3 separate regions of the Homo sapiens genome follow, and regions 2 and 3 are each linked to region 1. Evidence: fine-mapped expression QTL. A gene starts in region 1. Each other region holds a variant in brackets. All regions are shown on one strand. Distances are between the middles of the regions.

Region 1 (2,763 bases):
GATTTTCAAAGCCCTGGCATTCTGGGCAGTCTTCAAGGCTCGAGATAAGTTTTCCGATGTTAGCTCTAAATAAATCTCATTGTTTTCTGCAGAGACACCCTCCATTTGAAATTCGTTGAAGAAGTTCTCCTAAGGGAAAAAAAATGAGGGATGAGGGAGGGTATATGTGATCTTTCCAGTGACAATCTGCAGAGTGTGCAGGCCTCTCAGAAGCTTTTGCTCACCTGTTCCAGCTCACACCACATGCTCACTCCTCCATTAGCCAGCTTGTCACAAAGGATGAAGTTAAGCTTATCAGGGCTGATGCGGAGGGTGCAGGTTTTGGCAAGCTTGGCTATCATGTTACTGATTCCTAAAGCAGGGGTTAAAATAAGGAATTACTAAAATGCACATTATGTATCCTAGAGACCAACTTATTTTGCAGAATTTCTTGTTCATCAACTTCTCGGTGGAAAAATAACCACTTAACGTTGGTATCACACTGGAAAGTACTTTAATACCCCTGATGTCACGCAATTCTCCCAACAAACTAGGGGAGATGTACAGCACACATCATCAGTGTTCAAATAAGAAAACAGGCACCTACCAGTCATTCATTCATTCAACATGGATTTATTGACTACTAGGTACTGCAATACACAGTTAAATGCAAGGTTAGGCACTGTCAGGGTGGAGGGACGAATGGGGCCTTGAAGGTATGTCAATGCCTGATAAAGCCGTCTATGGGAGCAGTGGCCGCTTTTTTTTAAAGCCACGTGATCGGAATCAAGTTTCAGAAACGTCCCTTGAAAGCCGCCTTCATCCCCACAAGTGCCCTCCGACCCGCCCCGCGCCCTCCCGGCCCCACCCTCCCGCGGCCTACACCAGCACCCCCATCCCGGCCCCATCCTCCCGCGGCCCCTTCCGGCGCCCATCCCCGTTCTGATCCTCCTGCGCGGTCCCCACCGCGCGCTCACTGCTTCCTTCCGTTCCTCCCTCGCTCCTCTCCGGCCTCCCTGCTCACGTGTGAAGTGGTTCAGACAGGCCCCGTCCACGATCTTGGCCCGAAACTTCATGGCCGCGGATGGCGCAGCCGCGGCGGGCCTCTGTGGGTAACAGAAAAGCGTCGCGCCCTGAGTGTCCCCGCCCGGAAACACGGCAGCGCGAACAGTGGTTCCGCCCGGCTCGGGCTACGCGACTCTTACCAGGGTTATCTCCGGGCCACGCCCCGGAGGAGGTGGGGCTAGGGGGTCACGCCCTAGAGGAGGTGGGGTCACGGGTCAAGGATCACAGGTCACGCCCCGGGGGAGGTGGGGGTCCCAGTCTCCGGGTATGCCTCCGCGCTGCCGGGTAATGGTGGGATCTACTTTTAGTGAGGCGGAGGCTTCAAGCCCCAGATTCGGGGAGGTTGTTCTGAGAATTCACGTTTTGAAAGAATTTTGTGACACCTATTTCAAGTGTTATTTTAAAATATCCAAATAAAATTAATCGTTTATAAAGGTTAAACAATATTATCTTAAATATACCTAAGGTAGAGCAGCTTTAAACCCTCCAGCCTCAGATGACGGTACTGGTACTTTGGTATTGAAGCATCTTGGTGGATTAAGGTTCTGAAAATTGTTTCAAATGACTTCTAAAAAAATTGAACATATTACTGGCTAGTTGGTAAAGTCGGGAAGCTTAAAGAACACTGACGTTAAGTGATAATTCTGCAGTTTGCCTCAAGACGAACTTTATTACATCCGATAAAATTCTTATTAGCATAAATAATGTCATTAGGATTTTTTTTAAAGGAAAAATTTTAAAGGGGGAAATGAAGCAACAATTGTATCTAATTTGGTTTTTCAAAGACTAAAGATTATCTGTGTTAACAATTGTTATTTTTAATGTCCTTTGCAAATAGACTAGAACCTTGTCTTTAACTTGACACATAGAATCAAGATAATGATAATGCAGATGATGATGATGATGATTTTGAGACGGAGTCTGGCTCTGTCGCCCTGGCTGGAGTGCAATGGCGTGATCTTGGCCCACTGCAACCTCCACCTCCCGGGTTCGAGGGATTCTCCTGCCTCAGCTTCCCAAGTAGTTGGGATTACAGGCACAAGCTACCATGCCCGGCTAATTTTTGTATTATTAGTAGAGACGGGGTTTCGCCATGTTGGCCAGGCTGGTCTCGAACTCCTGACCTCAGGTGATCTGCCCACCTCGGCCTCCCAAAGTGCTGGGATTATAGGCGTGAGCCACCGCGCCAGGCCCAGATAATTTTCAAAGACACATGCACACATATGTTTATTGTGGCACTATTCACAATAGCAAAGACTTGGAACCATCCCAAATGTCCATCAATAATAGACTGGATAAGGAAAATGTGGCACATATACACCATGGAATACTATGCAGCCATAAAAAAGGATGAGTTCATGTCCTTTGCAGGGACATGGATGAAGCTGGAAACCATCATTCTCAGCAAAATATCACAAGGACAGAAAACCAAACACCGCATGTTCTCACTCATAAGTGGGAGTTGAACAATGAGAACACATGGACACAGGGAGGGGAATATCACACACTGGGGCCTGTTGGGGGGTGGAGGCCTGGGGGAGGGATAGCGTTAGGAGAAATACCTAATGTAAATGATGAGTTGATGGGTGCAGCACACCAACATGGCACATGCATACCTATGTAACAAATCTGCACGTTGTGCACATGTACCCTAGAACTTAAAGTGTAATAATAATAAAAAGGTGCAAAATACAAAAATTGCAGTTTTTGCCTATTTTA
Region 2 (2,763 bases), 23 kb before region 1:
CAGTACACTTTTTTCTGTAACATTATTTTTAGAGCATATCAAACCATAGTTTATTTAACCAATCCCCAATTAATTCATAATTAGAATATTTCGTGTTTTTCCAGTATAACAGTTCTATAATCTTTGATTATAACCTTTGTGTAAATTCCTATAAGTATTGAGTCAAAGGAGACACACATCTTTTCAGGCATTACATATAAAATAAATACTAAACTAGACTCCAGGAAAGTGGTATCAATTCACATTCCCAATAGCACTGTCCCAATGGGGCTAATTTATCTCCTTTTTAATCTCAGCGTATTTCCAGTTATAACATACCATTTTTACCTCTTGATTCAACAATTGTACTTAGAAGAAGCTCTAAAAATCCAAAACTGAAGCTTCCTTTTAGACCCTCCCTATTACAATCCGTATGAAAGTACAGAATTCGAGAGTGACATCAGCCAAACGGAGAAGTGAAGCTTACTGGCTTCTCTCCCTACCACATAATTTCAACTAGCAAATACCCAGTGGCAAGATTATTGCCCTGAATATCCCAGAAATTGGGAGTGAAGCTGTGACAACTCACTGGACCACAGAGCCAAGAAAAACCATGAACAGAGGGTAAAGAGAATGGTTCTGTTTGATCATAACACCTCTCCCGCAAGCCCACATAGCACCGCACTTGGAGAATTTCTCTGGAATCAGTTTCTACAGTGGGAAAAGAGAGCGGGAGGTGGGCATTCACCTTCCGCACCATTCTGAGACTCTTCACAGGGGCACACTATGGTCCTTTCCCCCTGGAAGCACTGCAGGTGCCAGCAGGGTTAGCCTGCTAGGTGTAAATTAGAAACAAAGAATGGGGGTGGGGCTCACAGCAGTCAACAAACAAATCACAGAGTGGACTGCAGGGAACCTGGGCTTAGGGCACCATTTGGCACTACACGGGCTGTAGCGTTCACGGGCTTAAAGACCAAAAAAGACAGTATGCTTACAATTTCTGGACAGACCTACTATACAAGGACAATCACAGACAAAGCCAGATTGCAAAGACTGTTTATAAATACCTACATATTCAATGCACAGATATCAATGTATAACTACAAAGATGAAGAACAGTCAGGGAAACATGATGTCACCAAACAGACAAAGTGCCAGTGACTGACTCTAAAGAGGCAGAGATATATGACATTCCTGAGATAATTCAAAATAGCTGTCTAAAGGTATAAAACTCCCTGGTAAAAATAACTCAGGAACTGATAACCAAATGATGATGATGATGATGATCAACCCAGAGGACTGGTTGAATTCGTTGCTCAAACCAGAGAAAAACACTGTCCTACTAAATGATACTATTTTAAATAAA[T/C]TGATTGGTCATTACTGTCAAGCAATTGAAGTAATTTGTCCAGATACATATAAAGATGAAGGTTTTGCTCAAATTCAAGTGAGATTCAACAGCTGAATTAAAGCTATTCAAGAGCCAGATGATGTATAAGTGGCTATAGCAAACTGCAAGACATTTGCTTTTGTGCATATATCTTCTGCACAGTTTGAAATGTCTCAAGGTAATTTCAAAAAAAGTAAACACCTTCTTCATAAAGCTGTAAAATGTGGAGCAGTACCACTAGAAATGCTGCAAATTGCCACGCAGAATTGAAACCTCCAACAAAGTAGCTGCTTTCAGCGAAGGAAAAGAGTTCATCAACATTGACAATATTAACTACCCAAGAATCATTCTCTAGTTCATTGAACATTTACAGAATAGGAACATGCTGTAATTAGGCAATTAGGCAAGAGAAAGAAAAGGCATCTAAATCGGAAAGGAGGAAGTTAACTGTCTCTGTTTACAGATGACACGATCATAAGTAGAGAAAATCCTAAAGACTCCACCAAAAAAACTGTTCGAACTAAAAAACATTCAGTAAAGTTTCAGGATACAAAATCTACAAACAAAAACTAGTATTATTTCTTTTTTTTGAGACAAGATCTCACTCTGTTGCCCACGCTGAAGTGCAGTGTTGCAATCACAGCTCACTGCAGCCTCAACTCCCTGGGCTCAACCAATCCTCCCACCTCAGCCTCCCAAGTAGTTGGGACCACCACACCTGGCTAACTTTTGTATTTTTTGTAGAGAAAGGGTTTTGCCATGTTGCTCAGGCTGGTGGCAAACTCGCGAGCTCAAGCAACTCACCTGCCTTGGCCTCCCAAAGTGCTGGGATTACAGCCATAAACCAGTATCATTTCTATACATTAATGGTGAACTATATGAAAAAGAAATCAAGAAAATCCCATTTACAATACAATTAAAAAAAAATATATATATATATATCTAGAAATAAACTTAACCATGGTGAAAAATCTCTAGGATGAAAACTATAAAACACTGATGAAAGAAACTGAAGACACAAATAAATGGAAAGTTATCCTGTGTTCATGGATTGAAAGAATTATTTCTTAAATGTTCATACCGTCCAAAGCAATCTGCAGATTCAGTGCAATTCCTATCAAAATACCAATGACATTCTTCACAGATAGAAAAAAAAATCCTAAAATTCGTATGTAACCACAAAAGACCTTGAATAGCCAAAGCAATCTTGAGCAAAAAGAACAAAGCTGGAGGCATCATAATACCTGACTTCAAAATATGCCATAAAACTAAAGTTATAAAAACAGCATGGTACTGGTATAAAAACAGATAGATCAATGGAACAGAGAACCCAGGAATAAATCCACACATTTACAGCCAACTGATATTCAACAAAGGCACCAAGAACACACATTTAT
Region 3 (2,763 bases), 38 kb before region 1:
TATTTCCTTGCTTAAACAATGTCTTAGGTGTAGCCCACACTAAGCAATATGAGGAAACGCACAACCACCAGCCACGCTGATAATGAATGCCTGTTCCAGAAACACCCAGTGGTCTGGTCATAAAATAATGAGGGTCAAAGGTCCTGCTCAGGGGTGTGTAGTAGAGGGGGCAACACCACAGTCGGAAGGAGTGGTTGGGGAGCTGTTGGACAAACAGGAAGACCATTAAAGACACTCCAAAGTTTATAAGCAGGATGTTCCCACCCAGGCAATCTGGCCCTGATGGTAGCACGGACCTGGCTGACGTTCACTCCTCCCATCTCTGAGGGCTGAAGGCCGGGCAGTGAGCGGAGCCAGTGTCCACCCGGCTGGGAGGCTGAGGGCCCTGCCACATCCCATGTCTGTGAGAGCATCTGGAATAGGATCTGCGCACAGCTGACAACTGTTGCCAGCGATGACAGGTCCTTGAGTGTTTGTGATGCCATTCTCTCTACTCATGCAGATGTTTGAAAATGTCCATAATAAAAGTTAAAAGAAAATATTTCTGCTAGACCTGGCCCTGCACAGAGCCACTCTCAGCAAGAAGCCAGGCGACTGCCTTGGGTGCAAGAGCTGCTTTCCCTGAAGCCCCCACCCCTCTCATCCCCAGGTAGGAGGGGAAGGAAGTGGGGGTGGCGGGTGAAGAGGGGACTGGAGCACCCTGCTGCTTTTCTGTCAGACCCGAGTCCCTGTAAGGAAACCTGTTTCTGCCTGGGCTCTCTTAACCCCAGTCTGTTATTCTGGCCAGCTTTGCTCAGGCTAAAAGGAACCCAAAGGCCTGCAGGCCGCCGAGAGCAGCAGGTTCTCCAGGAGCTCCAGGCCAGGGCTGGGCCATCCTCACAGGGGATGTGGCTTCCAATCCCTGCACCCCAGCAGTGGTGCTGGCAGTCAGCTTGCCCCTAGCCTCCCAGGACACTCTCAAGTTTAGCCTAGGACAATATCAAATCCAGTTTTAACATTGTGAGTCAAAGTCACTATTTACTGTCAAGAGTCCAGTGTATTAATATCTTGTGATAACAAAAGCTGAGGAAAAATCAAAGGCCGTGTTCCTGGCCTAATATGTGACGTGCTACAAATGCCATCGAGTGCCATTGAGCACCCA[T/C]GCAGGCTGGATGCACCAACTGAGGTATGAAGTAATTTCCTGAACTGGACACATCCGAGAGGAAGAAATATTTAGAAAATGTTTCGGAATAAGCTAGAATAGTCAAGTGACTCATATTTCTCTGAAACCAATTAGTCATCAAAGTCACTGTGCTCAAATTATCTGGAAAAAAAAGTGGATATACCCCTGAACAGAAAGAAATAAATAAAAAATCATAAAAAGTACATAAAATTGCAAAATTGAATAAAGTATGTCACAAAAGGAGAAATAAACTAAGTGAGTGAAACTAATCCTGAAATTGGCTTAATTGTCCCACAGAAGTGATATTTATAGGTTTTTTGAATAAACATGGAAACTGACTCTCCTAGTCTTAAAACCTGAAACTTAACATCCATCTCATCTGAGTTCTTCCCTCAGGAAACCAACCCAGGAAAGGGACCCACCAGATCCCTGCATCCAGCCAGGCCCCTCATTCCTCAGATTGCTTCCTCACCCCTCTCTAATTTTGTTTTCTCGTCTTCCCTGCTATATAAACCCCCAAGTTTTAGTCAGATGGGGAGATATATTTGAGACTTTATCTCCCTTCTCCTCATCTGCAGCACCTGATAAAGCTTTCTTCCCTGGCAATCCTCGCAGTCTTCATGATGATTATGCTCTGTACGTAAGCAGCAGCAGCAGGATGTCAGGCAAACCCCTGGCATTTAGGTAACAATTCCACATGATCTTAACATAAGAATTGCAAAAGAATTGGCGTTGCATTGTTTCAACATTGATGCCAGGCACACACCCGCCTCCTGCCCCGCGCCCCCGCCCCCCCACTCCATTTAAATCCGTCTCTTTAGAAATTAAAAAAATTTTTTTAAATTTAATTTTAAAAATCCGTTTCTCAGGTCTACCAAATGTGTAGCCTAAGTTGAAAACTCAAAAATTCCTTCTACTTAAAGGAATCCTGGCAATTACGTTTCAGGCAACACTTTAGAATTTTCATTTTAAAAATTAAAAACAGAGATACTCTCTGTGTTAAGGACGAGGAGGAAAACCCCACACCTGTGGCCATGCAGACACCTCCTGTAACCTAAGTATTCCCTTCATTGGGCTCTGGGAGGCCCCACTTACAGTCTTGGTTGTTCTCGAAGTGTGGCCCCCAGATCTCAGCCTCACCCCAGACCTCCTAAAGCAGAAAGTCAGGGGTGGGGCCCAGTGAAGGAGTTAAAAATATACCATCCTGGCCAGGCGCCGTGGCTCATGCCTGTAATCCCAGCACTTTGGAAGGCCGAGGTGGGCAGATCACGAGGTCAGGAGATGGAGACCATCCTGGCTAACACGGTGAAACCCTGTCTCTACCAAAAATACAAAAAATTAGCTGGGCGTGGTGGCGGACGCCTGTAGTCCCAGCTACTCAGGAGGCTGAGGCAGGAGAATGGCGTGAACCCAGGAGGCAGAGCTTGCAGTGAGCCAAGATCATGCCACTGCACTCCAGCCTGGGTGACAGAGTGAGACTCCGTCTCAAAAAAAAAAAAAAAAAAATATATATATATATATATATATATATATATATATGTGTGTGTACCATCCTGGCATGTGGACTATTTAAGTTAGAGGCACTTGCAAAACAGCAGGTT

Alleles and levels. Positions count from the first base shown, and alleles are read on the strand shown. Sizes are in standard deviations (SD) of each study's normalised expression. Not every link is listed here.
As copies of C replace T in region 3, the expression in lung of the gene that starts at base 1,151 in region 1 goes up (small effect, 0.24 SD a copy in GTEx).

Evidence for each region. PIP is the estimated chance that this variant, and not a neighbour inherited with it, causes the effect.
Region 2: its variant is fine-mapped to the expression of HUS1 in whole blood (INTERVAL, PIP 0.98).
Region 3: its variant is fine-mapped to the expression of HUS1 in lung (GTEx, PIP above 0.99).

What each region holds. Positions count from the first base shown.
Region 1 is chr7:47,978,465-47,981,227 of GRCh38, forward strand. HUS1 (HUS1 checkpoint clamp component) reads right to left here and starts at 1,151. Exons shown (of 8, transcript NM_004507.4): 1 at 1,004-1,151; 2 at 225-352; 3 at 1-129. The coding sequence starts at 1,055. RefSeq lists silencers at 672-721, 802-861 and an enhancer at 932-1,221.
Region 2 is chr7:47,955,571-47,958,333 of GRCh38, forward strand. It overlaps a transcript of PKD1L1 not described here. Among named protein-coding and RNA genes, the nearest start is that of PKD1L1, 8.5 kb to the left of the region's middle. The variant T/C (reference allele first, on the strand shown) is at 1,346.
Region 3 is chr7:47,940,497-47,943,259 of GRCh38, forward strand. All of the region lies in intron 2 of PKD1L1 (polycystin 1 like 1, transient receptor potential channel interacting), which reads right to left. Among named protein-coding and RNA genes, the nearest start is that of PKD1L1, 6.6 kb to the right of the region's middle. RefSeq lists enhancers at 693-1,316, 709-1,908 and a silencer at 1,696-1,990. The variant T/C (reference allele first, on the strand shown) is at 1,142.